5 separate regions of the Homo sapiens genome follow, and all the other regions are linked to region 4. Evidence: fine-mapped expression QTL. A gene starts in region 4. Each other region holds a variant in brackets. All regions are shown on one strand. Distances are from middle to middle.

Evidence for each region. PIP is the estimated chance that this variant, and not a neighbour inherited with it, causes the effect.
Region 1: its variant is fine-mapped to the expression of CD164 in whole blood (TOPMed, PIP above 0.99).
Region 2: its variant is fine-mapped to the expression of CD164 in whole blood (INTERVAL, PIP above 0.99).
Region 3: its variant is fine-mapped to the expression of CD164 in whole blood (TOPMed, PIP above 0.99).
Region 5: its variant is fine-mapped to the expression of CD164 in whole blood (INTERVAL, PIP above 0.99).

The regions. Positions count from the first base shown.
Region 1 is chr6:109,327,421-109,334,033 of GRCh38, reverse strand. It overlaps the pseudogene CCDC162P and the pseudogene RPL7P28. Among named protein-coding and RNA genes, the nearest start is that of CD164, 52 kb to the left of the region's middle. RefSeq lists an enhancer at 4,922-5,449. The variant C/T (reference allele first, on the strand shown) is at 2,709.
Region 2 is chr6:109,238,580-109,245,192 of GRCh38, reverse strand. It overlaps the pseudogene CCDC162P. Among named protein-coding and RNA genes, the nearest start is that of CD164, 140 kb to the left of the region's middle. RefSeq lists an enhancer at 2,406-3,605. The variant A/G (reference allele first, on the strand shown) is at 3,697.
Region 3 is chr6:109,437,805-109,444,119 of GRCh38, reverse strand. PPIL6 (peptidylprolyl isomerase like 6) reads left to right here and starts at 3,492. Exons shown (of 8, transcript NM_173672.5): 1 at 3,492-3,664. The coding sequence starts at 3,530. It overlaps SMPD2 (sphingomyelin phosphodiesterase 2), which reads right to left and starts at 3,396. Exons shown (of 10, transcript NM_003080.3): 1 at 2,949-3,396; 2 at 2,667-2,763; 3 at 2,492-2,568; 4 at 2,053-2,146; 5 at 1,821-1,910; 6 at 1,495-1,577; 7 at 1,236-1,368; 8 at 1,039-1,143; 9 at 700-853; 10 at 201-603. The coding sequence starts at 2,998. The coding sequence ends at 215. It overlaps MICAL1 (microtubule associated monooxygenase, calponin and LIM domain containing 1), which reads left to right. Exons shown (of 25, transcript NM_022765.4): 25 at 1-58. RefSeq lists enhancers at 2,512-2,591, 2,752-2,821 and silencers at 3,235-3,440, 3,082-3,901. The variant G/A (reference allele first, on the strand shown) is at 2,991.
Region 4 is chr6:109,379,055-109,385,667 of GRCh38, reverse strand. CD164 (CD164 molecule) reads left to right here and starts at 3,201. Exons shown (of 6, transcript NM_006016.6): 1 at 3,201-3,464; 2 at 6,006-6,089. The coding sequence starts at 3,290. RefSeq lists enhancers at 2,584-2,813, 2,894-3,243, 2,799-3,308 and a silencer at 3,464-3,743.
Region 5 is chr6:109,727,624-109,732,623 of GRCh38, reverse strand. The region is part of intron 4 of FIG4 (FIG4 phosphoinositide 5-phosphatase); the gene reads right to left. Among named protein-coding and RNA genes, the nearest start is that of FIG4, 39 kb to the right of the region's middle. The variant A/C (reference allele first, on the strand shown) is at 2,686.

The sequences.
Region 1 (6,613 bases), 52 kb after region 4:
AGAGCTTTTGCAGGGAAACTCCTGTTTTTAAAACCATCAAATCTTGTGAGCCTCATTCACTATGGTAAGAACAGTGCAGTAAATACCCACCCCCATGATTCAATCACCTCCCACTGGGTTCCTCCCACAACATGTGGGAATTGTGGGAGTTACAATTCAAGGTGAGGTTTGGGTGGGGACACAGCCAACCTATATCAAAGTGCATGAGTAGAAAAGTGTTATAAATAAAGTTTGGAAGAAAATATGTCAAAATAATAATAGTGGAGGCTAGGTGCTGTGGCTCACATCTGTAATCCCAGCACTTTGGGAGGCCAAGGAGGGATTGCTTGAGGCCAGGAGTTTGAGATCAGCCTGGCCAACAAAGTGAGACCCCATCTTTACAAAAAAGAAATACAAAAACTAGCTGGGCATGGTGGTGTGTGCCTGTAGTCCTAGCTTCAGGAGGCTGAGGTTGGAGGAGCACTTGAGCCCAGGAGTTTGAAGCTGCAGTGAGGTATGATCAGGCCACTGCACTCCAGCCTGGGTGACCTGTCTCTTAAAAAAAAAAAATAATAATAATAATAATAATGGTTATCAATGAGCACTAAGATTATGAGTATATTTTCTACTACAATATAATCATAAAATGTATATAACTAAAATAATTATGTAAATATATGTAAAAATAAAATGCATATAGTAATCTAAAGATAGTTGAGCTTTTTAAAAAGTCATCAACTATATCAGCTTGGCAGGATATGATCAAGATACGGGCAATAAAGCAGCAGATGGAAACCTCTGCTCACGCTGCATTTAATGAGCAGTGGATGGGGCAGTGAGGGGCAGGAACTCAGTGTCTCCCACTCACACTCTAGGGCCCTCCTCAAGGGGCTGCATTAGTGGGTGGGGTGAGGGCAGGATGACCTGCCCGTTACCCTTCTTGCCCCACCCAGTCTCTGGAGAGCAAGCACCAGGACAGCCATGGTTTAGTTGCTGACACAAGGCAAAGAGAACTCAAGATTCTACCCCTGGACCTTGACCTCCTGGTGAAAGGGCAAGGCTACACGGGTTTGGTCATGACAAAGGAAGCACTTCCTGGTTTGACTGTAATGAAAGCCTGCAGCCATGAGAAGTCACAAGACCCTACTGGAGTTCAGCAAGGTGTGGCCAGTGACCTCTTCTGGGCCTAGTGCTCTGAGCCAGCCACAGCAACTCAGTCTTTACTATCCTGGGTATGAGTGCCCAGACATGGGTGTGCCAACAGGGCATCCAACAGCTCTTATGCAGGGCAAACACTTCTCATAGTAATGCCACCATAGCCTCTGCAGATATAGGATCCCAAACCCACAGAAACGCACAACTGGACCACAGTGGCCCTCTGCCATGCCCTCTGAGCCAACATGATGTTTTACCTGGCCAGCAGGAGGAGTCTGTGGTGAGTCTGTATAACACCAAAGAGGTGGGAAAGGTAGGACTCTCCTTGAGCATCTCCAGAGGCCATAGAAGTTCTATTGCTTCCTTCTCTCAGAGCTCTACTGAGGCCTCAAGAGGTTGAGCTGAAAGCACAGCTCAAGGGGAGAGAGGCTGGAAGCAGGGAGAGGGAGAAGGGTGCAGGCAGAGTACCTGCAGGGGACATGGGACAGGGAGCATGTCTGAGGAGGGGCAGACAGGAAGCAGTGAGTGGCCAGTGAGGGAGGGGTGCAGGGAGGCTCTCAGGCTCCCAGCAGCCCCTCTCTCCAGGTAAGCTTTGGTCTTGCACCCTGTGCACTTGGCCTCCTGGAAGCAGCACATGAAGCAGCCGGTGTGGCTTCCGTGGGCTCAGCCTTCTCTGGGCTCTCGGAGCAATTTATTTCCTAAAACTTGCTCTGCAACCTACCCCTGCCTCCCTGGGTCACTGTAAATGTCACCTGTGCTTGTGTCAAAATGCAGCGTGAGTGGGTACCATTGGCCAGTTTCTTCTCCAAGACCCTGGCTGGCATAAGAGCTGCAGACTAAGATTATTGGCCCAGTTCTGCCCAATAAGCAGCACCGCCTTCCACTGGGCTGTTCTGTCACCATCATTCAAACCTGAACCATGATGGATGGCACTGGGTGGAAGAGCAGCAGATTACCCCAGGGATTCTTCAAGAGAACCAGCCTGGGGTGAAGCATGGCAAGCACTGGGCCTTGTTATGGCCAAAGTCTAGCCCTGAGGCCTGCCAGCAGCAATTGAGTTTCTGTGGTTTGCTTCATCTTGGAATCCCTTGTAACAATTTGTTTAATATCAGGCACACACGAGGTATCTTGAGGATGTTTCTAAAACACCCACCTCTGCTGACAAAACACATCAGTGGGCTGGGGGCAGTGGCTCACACCTGTAATCCCAGCACTCTGGGAAGCCGAGGCAGGCAGATCACTGGAGGTCAGGAGCTCAAGACCAGCCTGGGCAACATGGTGAAACGCTGCCTCTACTAAAAATACAAAAATTAGCCAGGTGTGGTGGCATGTGCCTGTAATCCTAGCTACTTGGGAGGCTGAAGCAGGAGCATCACTTGAACACAGGAGGTAGAGGTTGCAGTGAGCCAAGATTGCACCATATCCATGATGGAGACAGGGGGTGGCTGGAAGAGTAAGTTCCCTGTTACTGCAGATGATCCAGAAAAGGCTAGAAGCCTACCAGGCACAGACTTTGGAGAGGCTGGGGCATCCTGAGGACCCTGACTTCAAGACACTGGCAGGCTGACACCAGC[C/T]TCTTCAAGTGTGCCCAGAGTGTGGGGTGTACCTGATATGGGTTTGCTCTGCCTACTGACATTCATGCTTCTTTCCCACAAGACCTCAATGTTGGGGTGAAGCATACAGATAAGAAATGAGAAGGACTTCAGTCACTAAACTGTTGTTTTTATTGTGTTAAACATAAAATTTGTCACTATACCATTTTCAAAGGTACAGTTCAATGGCATTAAGTATATTCACATTGCTGGGCAACTATCACCACCATCCACTGCCAGAACTCTTCATTTTGTAAAACAAAAATCCTGTACCCGATAAACAGTAATTACCTATTCTTTCCTCTCAGCCCCTGGCAACCACCATCCTTTCTGTCTCTCTGAATTTGGCTACTCTAGGTACCTCATATAAGTGGAGTCATAGCGTTTTTGTGCTTTTGTGACTGGCGTATTTCACTTAGCAATAATGTCTGCAAGGTTCATCCACATTGTAGCATGTATCAGAATTTCCTTTTTTTTTTTTTTTTTGAGATGGAGTCTCACCCTGTCGCCCAGGCTGGAGTGCCATGGCACAATCTCGGCTCACTGCAACTTCCACCTCCCAGGTTGAAGCGATTTTCCCGCCTCAGCCTCCCAAATAGCTGGGACTACAGGCGCGCGCCACCACACCCGGCTAATTTTTGCATTTTTAGTAGAGATTGGGTTTCACCATGTTGGCTAGGCTAGTCTCGAACTCCTGGCCTCAAGTGATCTGCCAATCTCAGCCTCCCAAAGTACTGGGATTACAGGCATGAGCCACCACGTCAGGCCAGAATTTCCTTCCTTTATAAGGTGAGCCACAAAATTTTTCCATCCATTTTTCTGATATGCCCCACCCTAACCACTTCCTTATCTCAAGGATGGGAAACTACTTCACCCACTCAGAGTACCCAGTACCATGTTTGTTTATGATTGAAAGCTTAAACTAATACATGTAAGTCATCAAGTTCTGAGGAAAAATGTATCCCCAACCAAGCTTGTGAATTCTCTACCTCATAAGAACTGAGATGTGTATTATAAAATAATGGAGAACATTTGAAGAACTTGGAAAAATGTAAATTTGGAGAAGACATTTAAAAAAATGAAGTATGTTTTGCCAAGTCAAATTTCTTTAAATGGTTGAGTTTCAAAGGAAACTGGATTCACAGTTACCTAAAAGCACTTGTTAACACTCCACAAAACTCTGTTATGGTCAAATATCTACGTCTACTCTCTTATCCTGCCTTTTCAGTGGGTTGCTTTGATTTAGCAAGGCACTTCCTGCCAAGAATAAACATGTTTCAAAACTCCAAGGACTGTGTATATGCATGTGTGTATGTATTAAATGTATATTATTATTTAATATAATATATAGAGTTGTCACGGATTTGAATATTTTTTCTGGAAGGACACACACAGATTGCTGAAGCTGGCTTCCTTTGCAGAGGAAGCTGGAGATGGTGGCATGGGGACAGGTGAAAATGCTAGCTTTCTGTGCTATTGGCTTTTTTTCATATGCTACATTTTAATGTTTTCTAGGTAACAGCATTATAGGCTATTTTGGTTTTCCTCATTCAGGCTTTCCATACTAACAAATCAACAACAGAATATGTTGCTAAAAACCAACTCATTCATAAACAAACTCCAAGGTTACTTTAAAAAAATTGACCAAATTTGAAATTTGCCAACGTATGTATTCTAATTACTCAGATCTTTAGTGGAAATCAATTTTTTTCCAAAATTAAAAACTAATGATTACAGCTGAGCATGGTGGTGGCTCATACCTGTAATCCCAGCACTTTAGTAGGCCAAGGCAGGTGGATCACCTGGGGGTCAGGAGTTCGAGACCAGTCTGGCCAACTTGGTGAAACCCCGTCTCTACTAAAAATACACAAAAATCAGCTGGGTGTGGTGGCACATGCCTGTGGTCCTAGCTACTCAGGGGGCTGAGGCAGGAGAATCGCTTGAACCCGGGAGGCGGAGGTTGCAGTGAAGCCGAGATCGTGCCACTACACTCAAGTCTGGGAGACTCCATTTCAAAAAAAAAAAAAAAGGAAAAAAATAACTAACAATTGCTCTACTTTGGGCTTAGCCTCAGTATTCATATAATCATTCTTAGGGAATAAGGGAAGCATTAGGAGATCCATTAAATGAGAAAGTTTTCCTTGTTTGGGATGATGTTATAAAAACCAACAGAATGACTAATTTTCAATACATACCTCTACTCCATCATCCTGATAATTCTACATTAATCTCTGTATAAATTTTTCAACTATTTGTGGTCTTGAGACTGAAAAGTTTTCTTTCATGACTTGGTGTTTCCAGAGATCTAGGGGGAAAAACATACTGGCACTAGTACCACAAAACATTGTGCTGTCATTAATGGCTATAAAATGGCAACTCTCTGAGACAGAACATGGGACACAATAAGCTGTTTCTAAACTCAGCTGCCCCTTGATACATGCAGGGGACTGGGGATTGTTCCCAGGAACACCCTCAGATCCTGAATCCATGCATATTCAAATCCTGCAGTCAGCCCTGGGGAGCTCGTGGATACAAATATCTGCCCTCTGCACACGTGGTTTTCACATCCCGAATGCTGTATTTTCTATCCTCATCTGGTTGAAAAAAAATCTGTGTATCAGTGGACGTGCACAGTTCAAACCATGTTGTTCAAAGGTCAACTGTATGCAAAAACTAATGGGGGCTGGGCAACTGGGGATCCAAGACCCTCTGGAACATGGGAACTAGGAAGATCTCTAACCTGACTCCTAATGCAAAGATTTGGAAGAGCACCTATGAAATCCAGGGAATATTCCATTACCATAACTAAAAACCCCAAATCAAATATTAGTATCAATCCTACATCATCTTTATTTTTATTAAGGCCTTCTATGTATCTGCCAATTATTTTGGTCTAAAACAATGATCAGAAATAAATGAACAGCTATTATATTTATCTGCTTAAGTTCCTAGTGCTAGAGGGCAAAATTAACTTGAATATATAATAGTGATAAAAAAGGAGAGGAAATTCAAAAGAGAGAAGTTAGAGTTACAGATTAGAAATGTTGACAGACTGAACTTTAGCTCCAAGATTGAAGCAGCAATATGGCTGACACAGATGGGATGAGGCATATACAAAGTTCACTTGAGGCCAGGAGTTCAGACCAGTCTGGGCAACATAGTGAGACCCCATCTCCACAAAACATTTAAAATAGACAGGCATGATGGTGCATGCCTGTAGTCCTAGCTACTTGGGAGGCTGAGGTGGGAGAATCCCTTGAGCCCAGGAGGTCAAGGCTACAGTGAACCATGATTACATCGCTGCACTCCAGCCTGGGAAACAGGTTGAGATCCTTGCTCTAAAAAAAAAAATTAAAGGGGTTGCACGTGATCAGTAGCTGCAACACTAGAAAGATGGCAGAGCAAGAGCGAAGAAAAATCCCTTTGGTTCCAGAAAATCTCCTGAAAAAGAGGAAGGCTTATCAAGCTCTCAAAGCCATCCAGGCAAAGCAGGCACTTTTGGCAAAGAAGGAGCAGAGGAAAGGAAAAGGGCTCAGGTTTAAATGACTGGAATCATTCCTACATGGTTCCTGGCGGCAGAAACGTGACAAGGTGCATCTCAGATGACTAGAAGTGAAACTTCACACTTTGGAATTGCCAGATAAACATCCTTTGGCCTTTGTTGAACGCATTGAAAGGATTAATGGTGTGAGTTTACTGGTGCAGAGAACCATTGCAACACTTCACCTAAAGAAAATTTTTAGTGGTGTCTTGTAAAAGTAACCCCCCAGAACCTAAAAATGCTGCGTATAGTGGAACCTTATGTTACCTTTGGATTTCCAAATCCGAAGTCTGTCTGGCAACTCATTTTGAAACATGGAGAATCCGAGGTCAAGAATAAGACCATC
Region 2 (6,613 bases), 140 kb after region 4:
AATAAAAAAAAAATTAGCCGGGCATGGTGGCAGGCGCCTGTAGTCCCAGCTACTTGGGAGGCTAAGGCAGGAGAATGGCGTGAGCCCGGGAGGCGGAGCTTGCAGTGAGCCCAGATTGTGCCACTGAACTCCAGCTTGGGCGACAGCGTGAGACTCCGTCTCAAAAAAAAAAAAAAAAAAAAAAATTCACGCCTGGACTGATAAACTTGTTGAGTTTAAGGATCCTGTCTTATTTATATTTCATACAGCCATTCCATTACTACACTGTGCATCTAAATCTCTCACTCAGTTGGTTAAGGTTCTGATGGGCAGATTAAGCCTCCAGACAAAGGCTGTAGAAGCCAGTTATCATTGAAAAGAGGAACATTTTTTCAAAGTCCAAGGCTTGCGCTATTTAAGCCCAGCCAATTGTTTTCCAAAGGGTGGGTGACCTACATCTCTAGGAGTAACAGACCAACCAGAGAGTAGATGAAATGGTGAAGCATCTATTCTACTAGAAAAACAATTCAAAGAAAACACTGCCATTTCCCCATCTTCTGACCACATCATAGTGCACTATAACCTGGTTTCCACCCCTACCATGCCCCTGAAAGAGTCCTGCAATGCTGCCAATGACCACCTGACCAAGCTGCTTGGTTTTTAGGAGTTCCTTTCTTGACGTTTCACAGAACTCCACAAGTAACCACCCCCTCCTAATTAAAACTTATTTTTCTGTTGGTTCCCACAATACTATTTCTTCCTTGTTTCTCTGGTCTATTTAGTTTCACTGCTTCTTGTTTCATGACCTGCCCCTTAAATGTAGGTATATTACTCAGGGTTCGGGTGTGGTGGCTCATGCCTGTAATCCCAGCATTTTGGGAGGCCAGGGCAGGTGGATCACTTGAGGTCAGGAGTTTGAGACCAGCCTGGCCAAAATGGTGAAACCCTGTCTCTACTAAAAATACAAAACATTAGCCAGGCATGGTGGCGGGCACCTGTAATCCCAGCTACTCAGGAGGCTGAGGCATGAGAATCGCCTGAACCTGGGAGGCAAAGGTTGCAGTGAGCTGAGATCGTGCCACTGCACTCCAGTCTAGGTGACAGAGCAAGATACTATCTCAAAAAGAAAAAAAAAAGTAGGTACATTACTTAGGGCTTCATTTCAGACACCTCTAGCTTCTCCCAGTTGTTTTGATTCATCATTGTGGTTCAACCTCTGCATTCATACCTCAGCTCATACCTGTTCCTGAGCTTCAAACCTGTAGCTCCCCACAAAACATTCACATCTGAGTTTCAGCAAACCCCCTCAAATGCCTTGTTGTCCTAGGGCCTACGTTATTTTCCTGTCTAAAGACACTCTTCCTCTTCCTGGGTTCAGTTTCAGTTAATAGCCTCCTCCCTAATCCTCAGGAAGTTGTTTAAATTCCACCCTTACTCTCTCGCCCCAACTTCCAGATCCAGTCTTCAAATCCTGCCATTTCCACTTCTGCAAAGTATTCTCAGGTCTGTTCCTCCTTCCTATTCTCACCGCCTCTCTGCCTTTCTATTCTTCTATTGTCATTGCATGTCCCCTCCTAATTTTTCAGGTCACTGTTGCAACAACTGCACTTCTTTTCTCAGGGGCTCTCTATTCCAATCCATTCTCTCACTTACACCCAAGATAGCTGTTAAAAACACAGCTATGATCATATTTCTCTCTATGGAAACTCACTAATGGCTCTTCTTTGTTTGTAAGACAAACTCTAAAATAATATAACTAGTAGGTCTTTTACAGGCTGCACCCAAAACACATGTGTGGCTTGTTGCCATCCATCATGCCTTTACATCCCAGCCATAACAGTCTTCCTACCATCCTCCAAGAAGGTAAGATTTTATTTCTCAAAATAAAATCCCCCAAGCTGGTCCTTCCCATTTACATTGCCCTGACATTCTAATGCCATTTCGTCTGCTTAAGAATCTTTTCTTCCCTGCCAGACAATATCTTACTCATGTTTTAGTATCAAGATTAAATATCTATTCCTCTGGAAAGGCTTTCTAGCATTTCTTCCATCGGACAGTGCTCCCCTCCCCCAGGACAAATCTCTCTCTCTGCAGAGTCCCCATGACTCATGAATGTATTCAATTATAAGCTGTTAGTAACTAGATTATAATTTTTGCTTGGAGATTGAATCAACTTTTATAGATGATAAATTCCTTAAAGATAAAGATCATTTTCACTTAGTTATCTATAGGTCCCTGAATGCCTGGAACAGTCCCTGGCGGAGTAAATACTTCATATTTGGTAAGTAAATGCCTAACAATTGGTGATTATTAGAAGGGCTCATAATCCATGCTAAGGGCACAAATGAAGAACAGTAAACCTGCAGTGTTTCATTCATTATTGGGATATGAACCATTCGTGATACAGTGATGATTTAGTAACTTGCTGTTTCATTGCTTTAAACTCACCCTCATAACATTGCACTCAGCACCCTGTCCAATTGCTTTCACCTACCCACATGTGGCATACGCTTCTAAAGGCCATGATCAGGTCAATTTGTCTGTAATTAGCAAAGTGAGCATTGTCCCTGTGACTGCACAATGAGCATGAATGAAATCATCATTCATTCTCACTAAAAACATACATATTATAAGAAGGAATTACGTAGCCCTCTAACAAATAATACCTGTAAGATAAAGAAGTATCTTTCACATTTTGTTTTTTGTGATGAACCTCAGTAAAGAAAATAAAATGTATTACATCCTTATAATTAGCTGAGATTATTTAAATAAAATAATTATTCTCTTGGTTGAGAGCTTTTCTAAAAGTCTAACTGGGTTTTACAAAAACAAACAAAAAACAGAAAAAAGACTGGATTTTGTAAGAATGTTTTTTTAGCAGACATTTTGTCTCCTAGGCAAGAATACCTGGCGCTTGTTTTCCAGAAGAGCTGCTTCCCAAGTCCACGTGTCATACAGCACAGCAAATCTGTCCACATCTGCATGGGCCCATCCCCACTCCTGGCCACTCTTTGGCTGGCTGCCCACTTTGTGACCTGGGAGAAAAGAGGGTGAGAATGTTTAGAGACAGGGCTTCCAAGGAACCTGTTCCAATTAGAAATGTGCCCCTTGGATTATCAGCTCCATCTCAGAAACAGAAATACTGAACCAGTCCCTGGGACAAAGCCTGACTTCATACTTGTTGACTTCTAAGTCGACAGGAGCTTTTGTTTTTATTTTTAAAATTCAGTTTCAAAGACTAATCTTAGAAATAGAGTCAAAATTTAGTTAACAAGAAATCTATGCTAAAATGTCCTTAAACCCACAATTTAAAGGCAAAGTATACATTTCTCCTTCTCTAAAAACAAACCCCTGGGGGTTTAACAACAAACTTAGTTTGACTTGCTATTTCCATCATTGTGAACCAAGTCGAAAATTTTCAGAAACGTTTCCAAGATATTCCTTAATTATGTTAATTACTAACTTAAATCAATGAAGTTAATTTTCATTATTCAGCTGATTTTTTTTAACTTTGTTCACGTTACTTTTCACTACTGGTATTATTATTGCTTTAAATTTTTAACTATTGTATTTCAGAATTAAATATTCAAAGATAAGATACTTTCATGTGCTGAAATTTAAGCTCAATAATTATCACATATCTAATGGGTACTAAGCAAGAGAAAGATGATCAAGAACTTCCGTAGCAACAGTTGGGAAATCATTTCACAATAGATG[A/G]CTATACATTTACCAGCTCAATTGAAAAATGCCCATGTGGTTAAATGACTACTGACTAAGTGTCTCAGTCCAGTTAAATTCTTAGCAGCTAGAAATAGTTGCATGCTATTATAAATTAATATGGACCAAATGGTGCATTGGTTTGTAGGATAACCAGTAAAGATAAAAGCTAAGGGCTGAAATTAAATACCCTGGAATGTTGGATGCCATCATTGCGTCCTATGATTCAGATACCAATGGCAAAGACAGGACAAAGAGTTCAATCCTATATCAAATTAATTCTGTCTAGGATCTGAAAAGTTAGTTGTCAAACTTTCTTTGAGCAGCATTTTATAACAATATGAATGTGAATTATCTTTAATTACAGTCTACACATATTACAAAATAGCACAAACCCTGATTAAGTTTCCCTTTAGGTATTGCAATGTGTCTAGAAATTCTAAGCTCTTTGCAAGTGTAATTCCAATGCTGTCATAGTATCCCAAAAGAATATTCTTACCTCATTCATTTCTAAAATTGGATCGATTTGAGTGATGCCAAAAGGAAGAGAAAATACAGGTTATGGGTTACTTGATTACCCTGAGTAATGATTTCTTCCTCTGGGGCTTGTCTGGCATTTTCCTAGCCAGATGTTCTTGCATCCTAGTGGTTTCCTGTTAGGAACTCAGGGCTGTCTCTGCTGCTAAATGCAGTTTCCTCAAGGTCTACCACTTAGAAAAGTCATTTGTTTCACTTGCTTACTTTCCTTCCTTCAGGGTCCTGCACCACATCCCCTGCACCCAGTGGGTGACGCAGAAATGCCCCTGGGAGTAAAATCCCAATTCTTGGCTTAAGCCTGTTTTAGTCAGAAACCACCCAATTTAGCGTGCAGGTCACCAGAGTGGGTAGAGGGTCAGAGGTCAGGTCTTTGGCCCTGAGAAATGAAAATGCAGGGGCCGTGCTGTCCCTTGTACCTCAGGAGAGCAAGGAAGAAACTGGGCCTTCCCTGGCAGGGCTTCCTGCTCCTGCTTCTGTCTCCACTAGGCTTTCCCAGAAGGCAGCACCTGCTCCTCAGTCAAAGCACCTGCCTCGCACCCCTCCGGCCCCCTCAAGCCCACGATCTGCCTCTGAGTGTTGCACTAGGATTTTTATCGCTTAAAGTGTCTTAATTCTTTGTTCCCTGACACACAAGCCCTCTAGCTATTGAAGGGGAGATCATGAGAAACCTTCCAGGGAACCAGAGCACAGAATGACTGTTAGTTGTTTTTTCAAGTCTATATAAACATTTCAACAGATCACAAAGAAAACATTTATCTCTTCGGTCCTCGCAAGAGAAGTCAAAGGAACTTTTGTTTCTTATCAAGAGCCTGGACATCTTTGTCTGTCGTAACTGGAAAGAGCCTGTTGTACTGAAATCCTGTTATCATGGTGGATTTGATCTTCAGTGGCCAAACATGAAGAATTAAAAGCATAATTCTTGACTGAACTGGTGGGTGGGTTGAACTTTAGGAGTACATGGGCGGTCATTCCTGGCGCACATATCAGTGTGACATGAGCCCTGGAGCATGTCGTCCCTCTCAGCCCTGCTCCTTTCTGTCTCCTGGGGCCCAGTGACTGAGGCCTTACGCTAGAACTGTGTATCATCCAACTCTCCATTTATAAAGGAAACTTCCTGCTGCAACAACAAAAAAAAAAAAGAAAGAAAAGAAATGTCCCTGGTCAACAAACAGAGTCTGAATCACAGCAAGAATTACAACCCGGCCCTGAAAGAGTAGTCACCATCTCTATCAGAAGCAGGGCTTGAGCTGGAAACAGAACTGTGTCTCTCCTAAAGTGAATGCATTTTAGGGGTGGGGGAAGTGTGCGCTTATTGAGTTTTCACATACTATTGGATATGTGTTTATATTTTGGGGTGGAGAGTATTAAAAAGGAGCCCTTAGTGTTTTTTGTTTATTTAGGCAGTTGATTTTTTTTTTTTTTTAAATCTGACTTCTCACCCCTTTCTTTCTCAATGTAATGGCTAGCCACAAGCAGCAACTCTGCCTCTAGTTCCTTGAGATCACTCAAGGCTTCCTCATACATGACATGCACCCCTTGCTGGTCCTGGGTGTGGATGCAGCCAGCTTCTGTGCTGTAGTAGTCATCCTGGTTCTCCACTTCCGAGAACTCCATGAATTGGACGCTGTGGACCTGGAGAAAGAAAGCCAAGCCCAGATGTTACTGGAAAAAGGAGAGCTATATTTTGCCATCCCACATGGACAAGCAGCAGGCTTCTGCTCCCACACAGTGGGCTGCCAGTATGAAGCTGTAAATATTCTGAATGTATAAAAAGCTGTATGCAGAAAACATATTAACAAAGAATATTGGCAGGAAGAGGTAGTTCCTGAGGTGGATAACTAGCTGATTAGTTTGTTTTTCTGACAAATTCAGTAGCAACTGGAGAAAGGTAGGAAATAGAGCCTAGAGTGGTCTCTGGAGTCAGAATGCCTGGGTTCAGGCTCTGGCTCTGCCAGGATCTCATCCTGGGCAGGTCATTCAGCTATTCCCAGCCTCCGTTTCCTCATCTGTAACATGGGGACTGTGGAGACACTATAGACTATGTTAGCTGCCAGGAGTATGTGACTCTATGAGTGTAAGGCACTTGGAATCCTTAAATGTTAGGTTAAAACTATTTTTCTTGTAATTCTATAAGTACTTCTAAAATGTGTTAGCACAGTTTCATGGCTTACTAATGTACTAAGTTGAATAGTGTCCCCCAAAATTCATGTCTACCTGGAACCTGTGAATGAGAACTTATTTGAAAATAGGTCTTTGCAGATGTAATCAAGTTAAGATGAAGTCATACTGGATGAGAGTGGGCCTAATTCAATGACTGTGATCCTTACGAAATTTGGAGACAGACACGTAAGGGAGAAGGTCATGTGAAGACAGAGGTAGA
Region 3 (6,315 bases), 59 kb before region 4:
ATCTGGGCTGCCTGGCAGAGAGCCTTGCTGTTTACAATTAAAATGTTTCTGCCACAAACAGCGTTCACACCGCCTACAGGTGGGAGGTGGGGGCGTGTATGGGGACAGGAGAAGATGTGTAGGAGCCTTAAGGTCTGTAGTGTGACAGTCACACTGACCCCTGGCTCCCATCGCCTCTACAAGGAAAAAGGCAGAGCCACTAAAGGGCCAAGCTTTATTGTTCTTTAGTTCTGTCCCCCTCCTGCTGCCCCAGGAGTAGGGCTGGCTGAGGCTCTGGGCCCAGATCCTGGGCCTCCCTTGCCCTTCCTAGCACATGCTGGAGCTCAGCCTGGGCCCTATATAAGCCATTGACCTCCTGTACGTGGAAGAGGTAGAATGCACCTGCCCACAGCACCAGCCCTACACTGGGGGTCCAGAGCAGTATGGCAGCTTCCCCGGCCCCTCCTCCAGCCGCCAGGACACACAGCAGTGCCAGGAGAAGCAGCCCCAGGCCAATCACATAGCTAGCGAAGGTGGCCCACCAGCGAGCCTGAGCCATGCCCAGACCCAGCTCCGTCCAGGCCTCCTTTAGCACACACATCAACGGCGACCTCTCTGCTGGTCCTACAACAGAGCAGGGCAGTGGGGCAGGAGAGAGTCAAGAGTGGAAGGGCTGCTTCAAGCGGGGCAAGGGCCAAGGAAAGGGTGGGGGTGACTCACCGTGGGTAGAGCTGGGGTTCTGCTGTGGGGGGCTGTGCCTCACAAACAGAGTAGCCATCAGGGCTTCATGATCAGAGAGGGGGGTGCCCCTGTGAGGGTCAAAGCCTGTAGTGGTTTCAAAACTCTTACAGGAGATGTAAAACCCAGAAACTGCCTAGGAAAAGTAAGGGCCAGAGAGAAGCTTATATATGAGGGCCTCTTCCCAGAGAACCAGCTCCCGGCTACCCCACTTTCCACCCATCAGTGGTCCAAGACTAGACTAGCTGAGCAAAGGATCTACACAGGTTAGTAGACAAAGAGACACAGCATATGAAAGCATGTTGAAGGGAGGAGCCTGACCTTGTAAAGCACGTAGTCAATGCGGACACCAAAGGGAAATGGCTTCAGCTCCTGCTGGCTGACGTAGCAGTTCTTGGGTACCATTGTGTTGCCTTCCTCAGAGCCCTAAGGGAATCATTGGCTCATGCTAGGATGTGGGGGAGAAGGAGGGAGAGAAGCTGGGGATATAGGTGGGGAAGTAACAGGCAAGTCCTCACCTTGAAGTCCCGAGTTTCAAGATAGGCATCATGAAGCCCTGTCCACTCCTTCAGCAGGCAGCAGCCCAGGTCTTCTGGGTGCATGTTGAGGTCTCCACACAACAGAACCACGTCTGCCTTCTTGGATGTGTGGCTGGGGGAACCAGGTTGGTGAGGCGGGAGTTCTTCCATCACCAGCTCTTCCCCATGACTGGGGCCTTGTTCACCCTCAGCCCCTGGGTCCCATCCCACTTCCCATTTCAAGCCCAGGCTCACACACTGGATGAACTGGGCCAATTCCCAAGCTTGGGCCACACGATGTGCTAGGTAGATGTCCTTCTGTCGATTGTATTCGGCATGGAGCTGAGCAAGATAGATGAGATCACAGCAGATAAGACTGAGGGTCCCAGGGGTATGTCTGAATCAAGCCTGTGTCTGTCACTTGGCATGGTGTTTGGTATACAATGGATAAGCCTTGCCCATTGCTTCCTTATAAGATCTTGCCCCCACACCTCATCCCCAGGTATGAGAGCTAGAGAAGTACCATCTCTCTGTCCCAGGACTGGGCTGCATGTCCCAGCCCTAGGCACTGCCAGCTTCACTCACATGGGTCACATAGGCGTTGAGCACCATGCCACTTAGATGGAGCACCAGCAGCCCCACAGCCTTCCCACTGAACCAGTCACCATGATGGATCTGCAGGCAGGAGGAGATAGAAACTCAGGGCACCGCCACCATCTTTCTGCCCATCCCCTGCAGCTCTCAGAGGGCTGCCTCCTCTACCTTGTATTACTGGAGGTGGGGAAGGGAGGTGGAAGAGGTCAAAGGTCTGCCTTACCATGTAGGGGTAGCCATTGAGAGTGTAGATGTGCTGGGTAAGCTCCTGGATTGGATGTTTGGAGAAGACACAGAGGCCACTGCCAATGATTCCGCTGAAAGCCAAGCCCTGCTTAATAACCAGAAAAACAGGGAGAGACACCCAGCCTTCTTCCCCTCCCTTGTCTTCCAGCTCTGATCAGCTATTTTTTTCTTTTTCTACTGCTGGGACTAGCCCTAGAACCAAGGCGACAGCCTTTGGAGGAGTATAGGGCAGCCAGAAAACAAAGCTGAAATGGGCTGAAGTCATAGGACCTTCTTGGTTCACCCTTCTCCTTCTCTCACATCCAGAGGGAGAGGAGGCTGGAGGAGACTGGAGAGTGCAGGCAGGATAGGGAAGGGCTGGCAGGGCCAAGAGCCTCCTGGGATGACAACAGGCTTCAGGCCAGTGGGCTTCTCACCTCCGGAAGTGGTGTGCAGCTGGGTAGGTAGGTGACAGCTTCTGTCTCAGGTACTGGAAGTCCTGCTCACTCCACACCTGAGGGAAGCGGTGAGGATGCCTGCTTGGTCTTTCCCCAGTGGGACGGTCTGTCCCTCCTCCCAGCCTGGGTTCCGCACCGTGCTGCACAATCTCACCTCCTCCAGCAAAGCCAGGTCGAAGCTCTCCTGGTTCAGAAAGTCTCCCAGGCGCCTCATGCGGTCGGCCCGGTGCTTGCTCAAGTACGGAATGCCCCTAAGGAAGGGAAGAGCGGGGCAGGGGAGGCGACTGCTGGGACCACCGGCGCTGGGGCCAGATGTGGACTTTGGAGGTTCGGGTTTTCCCTACACCCTGAGATCGTGGGGCGGGATAGGGGGAGGAAGGCTGCATGGGTGCGAACGGAAGGTGGCCCCCAGACCGCACTCCGCAGACGCACTCACCAGCAGTTGAGGTTGAAGATCCGCAGTCGCAGGGAGAAGTTG[G/A]GCTTCATGGTTGGGGAGCTCCAGGGGCGCTAGGCGGCTCGAACTCTCCAGCGACGGCCGCGGTGGGGACGGGGGCGGCCGGCGGCGCCTTCTCCCCAGACCGTTCCTTCTTCGCAGGCGGCGCGCACAGGTGGGCACCAAGCCCGCGTGGCTCAGGTCGGGCCCGACTCCCGCGTTCCCCCGGCAACCGGCCGGCTGTTCCCAATCAGGCGGGCCGCCAACCCGGAAAGGCGATCCGCTGCCGAAATCCGGGCGCCCAGGCTCGGTAAGGGCCGCGCGCTAGGACCCTGGGGGTCCGGAGAGCGCCCCCGGGTGGGCGGCTCCCGGTTCCTTTTCCTCCAAGCTCGTCCCCGGCGGTCGCGGCCGCCCGCGCGCCGGCGGCCCAGCAACAGGCGCAAAGTTGAGGAAAGGCCCAGCCGCCACGGGCCGCCCTCGACCCGCCCCTGGGCCCCGCCTCCTGCGAGCGGCGGAGGCGGGGCCGCGCGGTTGCCGGAGCGACGCGCAGTGTTTGGGGTCACCGGGCGTCCCCGGGCGCGGCCATGGCAAGGCCGCAGCCGTGCGGGCCCCCGCACGCTAGGTGCGGCTCGCCGTCGCTGCCGGAGCGGCCGCTGCAGGTGAAGGTGGTGGGGCTCTTCAGCTGCCCCAACTTTCAGATTGCGAAGAGCGCCGCTGAGGTAACCACAGAGAAACCTCCGTCGTGGGCGGCCCTCCCCGCTACCCGCTCTCGGCCGCGTGGACTGCAGGCGCCGCGCCTCCTCGAGGCGGCGGGGGTCGAGGCCCCACCGGCCGAGGAAGGGGCTGGCGTGTCCTGGCCGGGCGGGCTCCGTCTGGAGGACCGGGAGGAGAGTATAGGGGGGCAAGTGCGGGTCCGGGGGCGGGCGTTCCACTTGGCGACTTTTAAAGGGAGAACTGAGCGAAGGAAGGGTTCAGAACCGCGCTGGGAGATAAGGTAATCCCCTCCGAGACACACACACACACACCCGCAGATTTTGTTCTACGTCAATTTTTTCTTTAATTAGAGATATTTAAATTTATGGAAAAATGATTACTATATAACTAGCTAATTTTTACAACCCCGCCACCTCGGCCCAAGCGATTTTTGTTAACTATTCATGCGGGGAGATTCTTTTCTTTGAATTTTATAGAGCCGTCACTGCGTTCCAATCGAACTAGATGCTTCACAAGTGCTTTGGAAAATCATTTCTTTGTAAACACTCAGAACGATACTAAAGGAAAAGCACTTGAGGAAACTGGAAGAATTTGGCCAGATCAGTCATGCTGCAGCACACTTACAACCTGAAATGCAGGAGAAATGTATGAAATGTCGGCATGTAGAATTCAGCCCTTCTTACAGGGTTTGCTCCAGAAATGCTGTCCATGGCAAACTTCTCGCCGAAGCTCACTTGACTCCAGGACCATGCCTTAATTAATGTTTTTAACTCCCGAAGTACCCAGCTGGATACTTGACAACAAAATGTTCCCAAATAGAAGATATCTTGGCGCGGTGACTCACGCCTATAATCTCAGCACTTTGGGAGGCAGAGGCGGAGTTCTAGACCAGCCTGGCCAACATGGTGAAACCCCGTTTCTACTAAAAATACAAAAAATTAGCCGGGCGTGGTGGCGGTCTCTGTAATCCCAGCTACTCAGGAGGCTGAGGCACAAGAATCGCTTGAACCCGGGAGGCGGAGTTTGCAGAGAGCTGAGATCGCGCCATTGCCCTCCAGCCTGGGCGACAGAGCCAGACCCCGTCTCAAAATAAATAAATAATAAAAAGAAAACAAGTGATCAGAAGTCTGTGAAAATAATACATGAATCATCAAAAGTAGAAATTGTGGTCTGTGTTGCTTGGGCAGACGGGATCAGCAACCTTTTATTACCAAAGTTAATGGCCATGAAGTTAATTACAAAGTTAATGTATTAATGAGTTTCAGAGATTTTTTTTCTCTTTTTTTTCGCTCTTTTTCTGAAGGCACATATTTTCTGTGCCGACTCCACATTGTAAAGAAAGTGTTGACAAGTTTTTTTCTGTAAAGTCCAGATAGTAAATATGTTAGGCCTTCTTGGCAATAGGGTCTCAGTCACACCTGTTTAGCTTTTTCCTGTGTTGCAAAAGCAGACACAGAGATGGAAATGAATGACAGTATTCCAGTAAAACCATATTATGGACACGAAATTTGACTTGCGTATAATTTTCACATAACGTGAAATACAATTCTTTTGATTTTTTAGAATTGTTTACAGGCCGAGCGCGGTGGCTCTTGCCTATAATCCCAGCACTTTGGGAGGCTGAGGCGGGCAGATCACGAAATCGGGAGTTCAAGACCAGCCTGGCCAACATGGTGAAACCCCATCTCTACTAAAAATACAAAAATTATCCAGGCATGGTGGCGGGCGCCTGTAATCCCAGCTACTCGGGAAGCTGAGGCTGGAGAATCGCTTGAACCCGGGAGGTGGAGGTTTCGGTGAGCTGAGATCGTGCCACTGTGCTCCAGCCTGGGCAACAAGAGTGAGACTCTGTCTTAAAAAAAAAAACAAAAAACTGTTTACAAATCTAAAAATTATTCCTCTCCAACCCCTGATGTAGAAGACAGTAGGTCGAGAAAACAATATCTTTATTGTATTAATAATGTCAATTTTCCCTTTCTTAAACTTTTACCTACTGTAGTTATATTCAAATATGAAAATTCAGCTAGTTTTTTTTTTCTTTTTTTGGAAGAGATGGGGGTCTCACTGTGTTGCCTAGGCTGGTCTTGAACTCCTGGGCTCAAGCAATCCTCCTCGACCTCCCGAAGTGCTGGGATTATAGGCATGGGCCACGGTGATGCCCAGCCTCTAGTTCTGTCTTAATAAAGGATATCTGAATGTATTCCTAACATGATAATTTGTGAGCGATCCCAGATGCCTGATTAACTGACAAAGATTTAGATTTGTGTTGAATGTTCCCAACACAAAGAAATAATAAATGTTTGAGATGATGGATATGCTAATGATAAGTATACATTATATGTATTGAGACATCACTACCCCATAAATATGTGCAATTATTATATGTCAATTGAAAAATAAAAAACAAAATGTAAAAACCAAACACACAAAAGATTGAAATTTGTAGAGAATAGGAACAAATATTGCATACATTTTCATTTGGATATAGTCCGTTCTACAACAAATACTAAATTACTAAAAAGACATGTGTTTCATTTGAAAACTGCTGGATTTATAGTTTATTCCAGATGGTTAGAAATAGCAGTCAACCGGGCCAGGTGCGGTGGCTCACGCCTGTAATCCCAGCACTTCGGGAGGCTGAGGCAGGCAGATCGCC
Region 4 (6,613 bases):
TAGCTTAAGATGGGAGTGACAGCTTAGCTGAGAGACCTCAAACAAGTAGGAGTTGGTCAGATGCCAGAAGGGAATAAGAATGTTCTAGGCAGAAGAAATAGCATGGATGAAGATCCACATGCAAAAGAAAACATGACCAGTTAGGAGAACTGGAAGTTCAGGGAGCTCTAGTGTAGACTGCATGGATGGAGTCAGAGCAGAGAGTAGGTAACAGACAGGTTGGGAAGGCATGGTACTCAGTCAAGTTATCTCTTCCAAGAGCTATATAACTGGAATACTGGGCAATGGAGATGATTGGCTGTGGGTCTATAGATCTGGCAATGTCCTGTAGGGTTGAAGCCTGAAACGAAGTCCTAGCAAACCAGCTCCACGTGCTAGGGATTCCTCCTTTTAAGTTCAAGTCTCCCTTGGCCCTCACACACTTGATTTCCCACCCCTGAATGCCTATAAGATTTACTGTCATATTCTTACAGTGAATGGATTCCCTTTAACATAAGCTAGTACAAGGGGGTTTGTACTTCTTGCTATCAAGTAGTGGAGGCAAACCTCTGATTATTAAGGGGCCACTGGATGTTAGTTATAGCTAGAAGGCAGGGTCCTGTTTGGAGTGTTGATCTGTTTATTTGGGGAAAGGTACTGACACAAGGCTGAAGCATTGTTTAAAAATCTGCTGTTTAAAAAACTTAGAGGGAGCTTATACTGCTAGAAGATTCACAAGCGCAGAAGCACTCTGTCTTGCTGCTTTCAAGAAAATAAATGGTTAAGAAGGTCGCTCTAACAACCAATCGACAATCTAATTGCAAGCAATGTGTCTAAGAGGAAATAACCTGAGTGATGGCTGACCTTGCACACAGAAGAACGCTCTGAGGGTGCCTTTCAATTGTGATTTTACCCCCAGGAGACATTTAACAATATCGGGAGATATTTTTGGTTGTCACAACTGAGAGGTGGGGTGCTTCTGGTATCTAGTGTGTAGAGGCTACGAATACTGCCGAATATCCAACAATGCACAGGACAAGCAAGAATGAGTCAGCCTGAAATCTTGATAGCGCCAAGATTGAGAAACCCTGCTCTATGACAACAATAAACAGAAGCTTACTGTCAGGAACTGAAAAAAAAAAAGCTGTCTCTCTGAAATGGTGAAAATGACTTTGGAACTCCCTTGATCTACCTCTACAGTTGCCATGCAAAATAAAATAAACCAATGGTTTTCTAGTCTTAAAACAAGAGCGTGAAATGTCCCTTTATCAGGACTGAGGAATATCTGAGGACTAGAGTTAAACATCCAGGTGACAAATTGTTAAACAATGGTCTGCACAGAGGAGTGTGTTTATCCTAGGGTGGAAAGAAGATAACACACCAAGCTCTGAGAACAGAGCTTCTATTTACATTTTTTTTTTTTTTTTTTTTTTTGAGACGAGTCTGGCTCTGTTCCCCAAGCTGGAGTGCAGTGGTGTGATCTCGGCTCACTGCAACCTCCGCCTCCCGGATACAAGCGATCCTCCTGCCTCAGCCCTGCTAGTAGCTGGGATTACAGGCACGTGCCACCATGCCCGGCTAATTTTTGTATTTTTAGGAGAGACGGGGTTTACACCATGTTGGCCAAGCTGGTCTCAAACTCCGGACCTCAGGTGATCCACCCGCCTTGGCCTCCCAAAGTGCTGGCATTACAGGCGTGAGCCACCGCGTCCGGCCCCTATTTACATTCTTAACCTTAAAAAAAAATTAAAGTTGCCTTGCGCTTTCATTTGGTCTGGGTGCCAGATAGTCAAGTGTTAAATATAGAGAGAGGCCTCCTGAGAGAAGAGCAGACACTTCTCTGAAGGGCTTATGGTGGGAGCTCACTTCCCTGACAGCATTCTCATGCTTCTGGGCTGGATCAGTCAAAACTATCAGCTTTTTGTTTACATCCAAGCAACACTACTCCAACTAGCGTAGTCATTGGAACAAATGTTCATAGTCCTGAGGGTACAGAAGGACGACACTGAAAAGATCCCAAGGGGAAATAAAATCTTTCTATTTGAGCAAAAAGGTAAAAGCACTATGTAGTCATCTTTTTTGGCACATCAAAAAAGTCATCGTGGCACATCAAGACAGACCTCACGAAAGCAATTAATATTCCTATATTATTAGGATAACTTTGCATAATTAAAATTACATAAGTGTACAACAGCTGAAAACACAGCATTAAATACAACTTTTAAAGTCTAATTTTTACCATGTGATAACCGTATCAAATTTTGCGAATATTTTGTGAGACTTGGCAGTAGATGGCGCTCACCTTTACTAAAAGTCTGAGCAGCGCCTTAACACTAACAGGAACTTAAGAATCCAGCTCTGATGTCAGGCAATCCCGTGTCCAGGTCAGGTCACTTTTTTAAGTCTCAGTTTCCTCACTGGTAATGTGGGGGTGGGGGCCTCCCCAATGACCTCGCAACTCAGACCGCTTTTGATTCTCTGACTACAGTGGTGGAGTTGAGACAGGTCGGCTGCTGCAACCGCCGTCTGAAATAGCAATCCGGAAAAGTCAGGTTGGGAAAGTGACAGAGTAGACGCCCTGCGGCTCTGATCCGGGCGGCGCCTCAGCTGCCCACACTATGTGGGCGGCAACGCACAAACTCCTTAACCACGTGGTGCCTCCATTCCCCTAGGGAGTCCCATCACAGGATAACTTCTAGCAAAATCAATCTTCAAGAAAAAAAGAAGGGGTCCTGCCGAAGATATAAGGAAGCTCCCTGGGGATCCCGCAGCACAGCACAAACTTAGTTCTTGAGAGCCGCACAAAACCAACTTCCGCCCCAGTGGAGTTGCGTCCGGAAGGCGCGGCCCCGGAGGTCACGTGGGCCCGCGGAATTACAGCCTGGCGGGGCGCTCAGGTGGAAGCAGTAGGCCACATTATGTCGACTGTTCCATGCAAGTCAGGGTGGGGGCCGTCCCTATCGCAGGCATGAGACAAGTCCAGCTGCGTCGTGTCTGGTAATCTGAGGGCAAGAAGAACGATTTGCAGAAGCTCCCAGTTTTCTTGGCTGTGGCACAGTCGCTTTGAGGGCCAGGTTCCTTCGGCTTCCTCCCGACTCCCCTGCTTCCCCCCGTAGGATTCCCGTTGGTATCGTCCGAGCCCCACCTCCCTCCTCTTCGCCCCCGCACGCCGAAAACAGGGGCCTCTCACGTGACCCCTGCGCGCTCCCGCGGGGGAGCGTAGTCTCGGAGGCGGCGCCGCAGGGGATTGAGGGGTTGACTGAGCGTTGCGAGCCTTAGCTTTCTCCCGAACGCCAGCGCTGAGGACACGATGTCGCGGCTCTCCCGCTCACTGCTTTGGGCCGCCACCTGCCTGGGCGTGCTCTGCGTGCTGTCCGCGGACAAGAACACGACCCAGCACCCGAACGTGACGACTTTAGCGCCCATCTCCAACGTAACCTCGGCGCCGGTGACGTCCCTCCCGCTGGTCACCACTCCGGCACCAGGTGGGCGCGGGCCCTGTGGGCTTCCCGCCCTCCCCTGCCCAGCCGAGCCGCACTGCCTCCTCGCCGTGCGGGCGGGGCCCGGGTTCGGGCCACGGTCGGGCGGGCGGGCCGCGCTCGGGGTGCGGCGGCGACTCCGGCAACATGGCGGCCAGCCTGGAGTCCACTCGTGGCCGGGCCGGGTGGGGAGCGCGCTGGGGGGAAGCGGACGCGCGGTTCCCAGTGGCTGCGGGGCTGGGGCCCCCCTCGAAGTGTTGCAAGTCGAGGTGCCTTTTAAAAGTGCATCGTAATTCCTAGCCTCACTTGGGGTCGGAAATGGGGACGTGGCTTCCTTCCGCGGGGGCAGCGGTGGGGTTGAGGATGGGGCCGGGCGTCGCGCCTCTGAGGTTGGCGGTGGGGCCGAGCTGCCTCTCCCTGCCACTGGTTGTTCACCCTCCCGGCGCCTCTCTCCGGAGGTAGCCTTCTCCGGAAGTCCGGGAAAGAGAAACTTAAAGACGGTAATGCTCGTTCGTGTCTCAGACTTGAGTCTGAGAAGGTCGCTTGAGATTTAATTACATTGGTTTTGCAGATAGGAATAGAATGTAGCTGACGTTTGAGCACGTAGTTAGTGAAAACTTCACACTTCAAAGTATGCGAAAAGGAAGAAAAGTACCCATGTATGTACCGGGTGTTTTGCGTACGTATCCTAAGGCTAAACTGGAAGGTAGGTAGTGAAACCTAGGAGGTAGATGCAGAGACGGAGATGAGTAAACTCTCCTGACATTGTATGTTTATTCTTTTTTCAATTGTTTTTAAAATTTTCTTAACTATGTCCTGTGCTCAGATAGCGTATGTTTAGTAGGTCGTGGAACGGGGGTTTGTGCCCAGGTCTGTGGGTTTTCTAAAACCCGATCAGGAGCGTGTCTTTTGTTATGTGCAGTCGCATAGGGCTGGTTAAGGCATACATACATTTTAAAGCAGAAATTGCCATATACCGTGACAACACAAAAGAGAGAAGGAAGATAAGTTTGAGGTAATAAGCGGGAGAAACACTAGAGGTTTAAAACCTGCAGTCTCGTATGATTGGTTATTCTAGTTAACATTAGTTAAGGAGTAATGTTTACGTAGTTAACATTGGCTTCTTGACCGAAGAATGCCGAAGTGTAATGATTTTTATCACGGCATTCATATTCTACAAATTCTCCTCTAGTTTTAGTATTTTATAAAAGTTTAATAAAGTATATAGTAAACTTAATGTTTTGTTTTTAGTTTAAGGAAGATGTAATGGTAACATTTCAAAACGAGGGAAGTAAATTGCAGTATAATACTGGGAATTCTAACCGCACTATTTTAAGATGATAGAGCAGAATATGTTTGTCTCAGTCTTAATTTGACAGTTTCCTTTCAGAATTGTAGTGTGTGTGTAAGAGAAGGTTGGAAGTATCAAATTAATTTGTCTTTGTGTAATTGAAGTGCGTGCAAAGGAGGTATGTATTTTCTGGAAATCATAAGTGGATGTAGTGTGGTCTGAAAGGTAGCAAGTTTAGTTCATTGTAAAGAACATTTCAGACATTTCACTTTGCTACACCCGTCAAGCACAAAGGTTTTTAAACAGCATGTTTTATCTATACAAACTTCAGAAAATTTATTTTTACTTTATGAACCCTTCCCCACCCCACCGTACATGTCCCAGTCTTTAATAAGTACTAATGATGAAGTATTGAAAGCAGTGCCTCTGCAGAACTATTTTTTAGGCAGGAGCAAAGCAAACGAGAATGTTTGGAGGCATCTAGTTTCTAGGAAAATGAATGGAGCCCAATTCTTTTTTTTCTTTTATTTTGCTGCTTTTTCTCACTGGAAAATAGAGCCCAATTTTATAGTCCGTTCTTCTCCAGAAATTGAATTATGGTGATGAGTACTTGTTTCTGGATTGTTTGGCCTAGGATGAACTATTGACAAATACCTTGTTAACCTGAATTGTATGCACTTGAATATGGGCTTTTAGATGTTGTCTCCAGTTGTGGAGGATCCTGTCGAGAGTGGATCATTTATGAATCGAGAATCCCTGGGAAATTATCTTTGTTTGCAGCAGAATGGGCATCATCAGTGCTTGGGTTCAACCTGTTAAACTACTACTGTTACTACTAAAAATCTCAGGGTTTTATCTGATGTTTGGGGGTAGTGGTTTTCCTATGTGTAGTGTTGGTATTATATCAAAGCCTTTTTCTCGATATTTTTATGTATTAAGGATGCTTTGAAATGCCTAAATCCTTAGTGGCTGTGGGTGTCTTCCAATAGTTGTCCTGTGAAAAAGGATTGGTTAGACAGATACCATCAGGCACTGTACTGAGAGTGACCACTAGCTTGTTTTTCTAATGCGTTTACTTACAGCTTTGTAATGATTGGAATTTCTTAGTAAACCAGTATAAAGTTTTATCATTTATCTGAATTAGTAATTTTGATGCTGTATGTAATGCTTATTGTTCAAAAAGATAAGTAATACAGATTCAAATAAGATACTAATAAAATCATTGATTTCATGCATCTCTCCCCCCAACTCCCCAGAAACCTGTGAAGGTCGAAACAGCTGCGTTTCCTGTTTTAATGTTAGCGTTGTTAATACTACCTGCTTTTGGATAGAATGTAAAGGTAAGAAACTTTGGGGATGCAAAACTGTTTTGTTATAGCATTTTAAAATACAGTAATTCTTGAACACTTGAAAGTTATGTAGGACATTTAGGATATTGTGCACTATTTATTTTGCAAATCCAGTACTCCTTTAAAGTGCCAGTTGCCTCGCACTCCCCCTGAAAATCTCTTTTTGTCTCCCATCCTCCCTTTAGATTCCTTAAGACTTGATAATTAAAGCTCAGTCGTTTGTTTTTTATGAGATGGAGTCTCCTGTGTTACCCAGGTTGGTCTTGAAATCCTAGGCTCAAGCAATCCTCCAACCTTGGCCTCCCTAGTAGCCAAGACTACAGATGCGTGCTTCCTCACCTGGCTTTTTTTAAAGCCTGTTCTAAGGATTGAGAGTACTTTAATACACTGGAATTAGCTGTGAGTGAAGGTTGTGTTGAAAACTGTGTCCTGCAACATGAAATATAAAGAGACCTTATGAAACTGTTGGATGCTTAGGTGTAGAGAAGAAAGAGGTAGGGAGAGTTGACTTCCTG
Region 5 (5,000 bases), 350 kb before region 4:
AACAAAGTACATTTCATTTGTCCAATACTATTATTTCTCACAGTTTAACATGTACCCATATGTACATTTATATTTGTAAATATGCTCATTAAAGCTGAGGAATTCAAACCATATCTAGAATAGGGATTACATCCAAAGCAATTCTAGGTCTATTGATCATCCCTTTGGAGACCTTTAACTTTATAGTTTGGCTGTTCCTTACCACTGATTATGCCAGTGAGAGGCAAAGTCGTGCATCTACATGTAGGGGGCACAGCAGACTTTGGGCAAGACAGAAGTAAATGCTGTTTTTGCTTTTACAACATGCTTTGCAAATGCTTTGAGGATGGAGAGAGGAGAGCAACAACAACAAGCGCAATGTGGGTCACCACAATTTTAAGTTGGTAAGTTTTTACACCAAAAAAGGTATAGAATAAAATGTTCACATTTCTGTCACTCATGATTAATAAGTGTTCACATTTTAAAATATCTATTTCAACCTTTTTAAGATAAATAACGAACAATTTAAAAAGTTAACATTCCCTTTAGACTTCCCCAGTCCGGCTCTCTCACTCCAAATGCAACCATTTTCCTGTCACTGATGTGAATCCTTCCAGTCCATGCATCTCTTTACTTTTATCACATTAGAGCCATCTTTAAATAATACATAGCATTATATTGTATATTTAAAATATGTATGCAAATCATTACAAACTTTGTATACTGTCCTACTTTTTTCACTCATTTTTTGAAACCTAGTTACGTTGAAAGTTATAGATTTAATTTGTTCACTTTGTAATCAATGTTTGGTCTTCACTATATACAGTCATCCCTCGGTATCTGTGGGGGATTGGTTTCAGGTCCTCCCTCAGATAACAAAATCTGCAGATGCTCAAGTTCCTGATATAAAATGGCATAGTATTTGCACATAATGCACAATACACATCTTCCTGTACACTCTCAATTACCTCCAGATTACTTATAATACCTAATACAATGTAAATGCTACGTAATTCTATAGTTGTTATACTCTATTCTTTAGGGAATAATGACAAGAAAAACATCTGTACATGTTCAGTACAGACACAGTTTTTTTCAAGTATTTTCAATCTGTGGTTGGTTGAATTCACAGAGGTGGAACCCATGGATAAGGAAAGCCAACTACACATGACACACTTTATTTATCCATTGTCTGCTGATAGACCATTAGGTTCTTCCTAGTTCTCCACTATAAGATACAATGCTGCCAAGAGCATCCCATGCATGTTTTCCCATACACATGTGCAAGAGTTTCTCTAGGGCAGATACACGGAAACAAGAACCACTGTGCACTATAGATAACGTGCATTTTCAATTATGCTGGAATTGCCAAAGTGTTCTTCTAAGTGGTTAAAATATCACTCCAACTCATAGTGTATAACTCATAGTATACAACTCATTTCCCACATCTCTGCTATAATTTGATGACAGCAGATATTCTGATTATTCCCAAACTGACTAATGAGAATAAAATGGTACCTTTTTAATTTGCATTTCCCAAATTACTAGGTAAGGTTCAGAATCTCTACTGTGAGCTGCCTGTTCCTTTTAATCATTTCTCAGTTATGTTGTATTTTTTTCTCACTGATTTGTAGAAATTCTTCCCACATTCTAAATAATAATCATTGTTATATGTTACAAATATCTACTTTCAGACTGCTGCTTGTTTCCTAAAATTTGTCTAGATTATAAATACATTTTGAATATTTACAGTATCAAATATAGCATTGTTTGCCTTATGGTTTATGCATTTTGTATTTTGTTTGTAAAATCCTTTTCCATACCAGGATTATAAAAATATTTACCTTTATTTTCTTAAAATTATCTTTGTACTTCTGGAATTGCTTCCTGAATATTATCAGAGAATGGAATCAAATTTCATTTTTGTCCAACTGGAAAACCAACACTATTTATCCCATCTTTTCCCCCAATGACTTGTAATGCTCACTCTATCATATTCCAGTTTGCCACATAAAATGGATCTTTTTCTAGGCTTTCTCAACACTGTTCATTGACCCCCATCAATTCCTCCACCAATACTTAGCAGTCTTATTTACTATAGCTTACTACCTGATTATCTTAATTATTATAGGTCTTACCATCTTGTTGACTTTATCCCTTCTTGTTTTTCTTGTTTCAATTGTCTGGACCATGCTTAGACATTTGCTTTTCCATATGACTTTTAAAATCATGTCAAGTTCCATTCTCAAAACATCCTCTTGGAATCTGGATCAATGTTACATTAAATTTATAAACTGGCCAGGCCCTGTGGCTCATGTCTGTAATCCCAGGACTTTGGGAGGCCGAGGTGGGAGAACTGTTTGAGCCCAGGAGTTCAAAACCTGCCTGGTCAACACAGAAAGACCCTATTTCTGCCGAAAATACAAAAATTAGTCAGGCGTGGTGGCATGTGTCTGTAGTCCCAGCTACTGGGGAGGCTGAGGTGGGAGGACCACTTGAGCCCAGGAGTTCAAAGCTGCAGTGAGCCAAGATTGCACCACTGCACTCCAGCCTGGGTAACAGAGTGAGACCTTGTCTCAAGAAAAAAAAAAATTATAAATTAATTTTGGAGAAAACTAACATCTTCAAGATATCAAGACTCATCCATGAAAAAGGGACATCTCTCCAATTATGTAGAGATTTAAAAAATCTTTTAATAATGTTTGA[A/C]GTTTTTTCCATAAGGTTTTGGATAGCTTTTGTTATATTTATTGGCAGGTACCTTATACATTTTCTAGTTCGTTACTGCTAGTGTGTGGAAATATTACTGGTTCCTGTATGTCTTACATGTTGATCTTTTCTTTTTTCTTCTTTTAATCTTTTTTTTTTTTTTTTGAGGCAGGGTCTCACTCTGTCACCTAGGCTGGAGTACAGTGGCACAAACATGGCTCATTGCAGCCTCAACCTCCTGGGCTCAATCCTCCCACCTCAGCCTCCCAAAATGCTGGGATTACAGGCATGAGCCACCATGCCCAGCCATCTTTTCTTAGTCACCTTACTGAACTCTTTCATCAGTTCCGAGAATTTGTAGATATTCTCAAATTTTCCAAGTAGGAAATGATGCTGTTTGCATAATGACAGTAATTTTTCTTTTCAAGCTTTATGCCTTATTTTTCTAGTCTTGTGGCACTGCCTAGGGACTTTCAGTATGAGGCTGAATGTTAGTAGTGACGGCAGATACCTCTGTATTGTTCCTTACCTTGATTAAAAGTAATGCTTTTAAAGTTTCACTTCTAAGAACAATTTTGGATATAGGTTTTTAATAGGTATCATTTATCAGATTAAGAAAGTCTGCTTATATTCCTAGTTTGCTAAAACCTTTTATCACAAATGGGTATTGAATTTTGTCAAATATGTTTTCTGCAAACATTAAGAAGATAATTTTTCCAGCAATATTTTAATGTGGTGAACTGTTCTAGTAAATTTTCTAACATTGGTAACAATCATGCATTACAGAGATAAACATTATGTATGAAATGTTTAATAGTACTGTATTTTATTTCCAAATATTTTACCAAATAGTTTTGCTTAGATACACTATTGGATTATATAGTTTTATAAGTATTAAAAGTTTTTCCTAATTAGTAATATTACTTCAGTTTACCTATAAAAAACTATTAATATAATTGTATCTTATTCTGAATAAGTCCATTTACATGTTATTACTCATAATTTTATTCTTTAAAGATATCCAAATCACTGTACACAACAACATAATTTGTATTAGTATTCTTGGCTAAAGTATCATAAAGATGAGACTTATAAACAACATTAACTTCTTGAAATTTTCCTATCCCTGGATTCGCATGGTCTGGTCAATCTGATTCACTTTTAGTCAATACACTATATAGGCCTTCCTATCAGCTGTATCAGATATAACCTTTTTCAGTTAGTGCAAGACAAAGGTCTACTCTGATAAACTGTACTTATCCTCAAATGAAACAAATTATTTTCTAATAACCCCCTTCCAAATCATCATCAAAAGCAACATCACAAGGGCTCAGAAAACCACTGTCTAAGATGGTCTCAAGCAACAGGGCTGCATCACCTTTAAATTTTGGTTCATGTATTGGAACACTACAAAAGTACAGGATATAATTAAAATCTAAACTGTTACCTATCCTAAAAACTTATAAATATTTCTTTGTTCCATTTTAATCTTCATAATATTAAATCAATTCAACCTTTACAATTTTATCAATTTGTTAATAGCTTTTCCCACGTTTCCAAGGTTCCAATAATTCCTCCAAAACTTTTGAACATTTCAGATATACAGGAAAAATTGCAGGGAAAAAAAAGTACAATTAACACCACTATGCCCTTCTTCTGAATTCACTTTTAGCGCTCTCTCCTTAAACACATAAACAAATATTATCTCTCTTTAAATATACAAATACATTTTATTTTTCTAAACCACTTGACTGTAAGTAGCAGACATCATGACACTTCACTCCTAAGTATTTTAGCATGTATCTGTTATAAACAAGGACAATCTCCTCAGTGACCGCAAACCATTATTATACTCCAAATTTAAATACTGATTCAAGATCACTAGTATGTAGTCCACATACAAACTGTCCAAATAAAGCCCTTTAGATCTTTGTGTGAGGATGTGTGTACAAGTACATGCACTTTTAACCCAGAATCCGACCAAAATCTGCATTTAGTTGTCACGTCTGTTTAAAAATCTGGAACAGTCTTTTGTTTTTTGTCTTTGATGACTTTTACATTCTTTTAAGAATCTAGGCCAGTTATCTTGCAGGAAGTCCAGTGGTATGTATTTATCTGATTATTTCCCCATGCTTAGATTCAAGTTAAATATTTTTAGCAATATTTAACTACTAAGGTAAACTGTGTCCTTCCCACTGAGAGTCAAACAATGTCAGTTTCGTCTCATTATTGGTGATGTGAAGTTTGATTATTTGGATAAGAATGTCTGCTGTTTTTTTCATCATAAAAATACTTATTCCTCTGTAAATAACAAA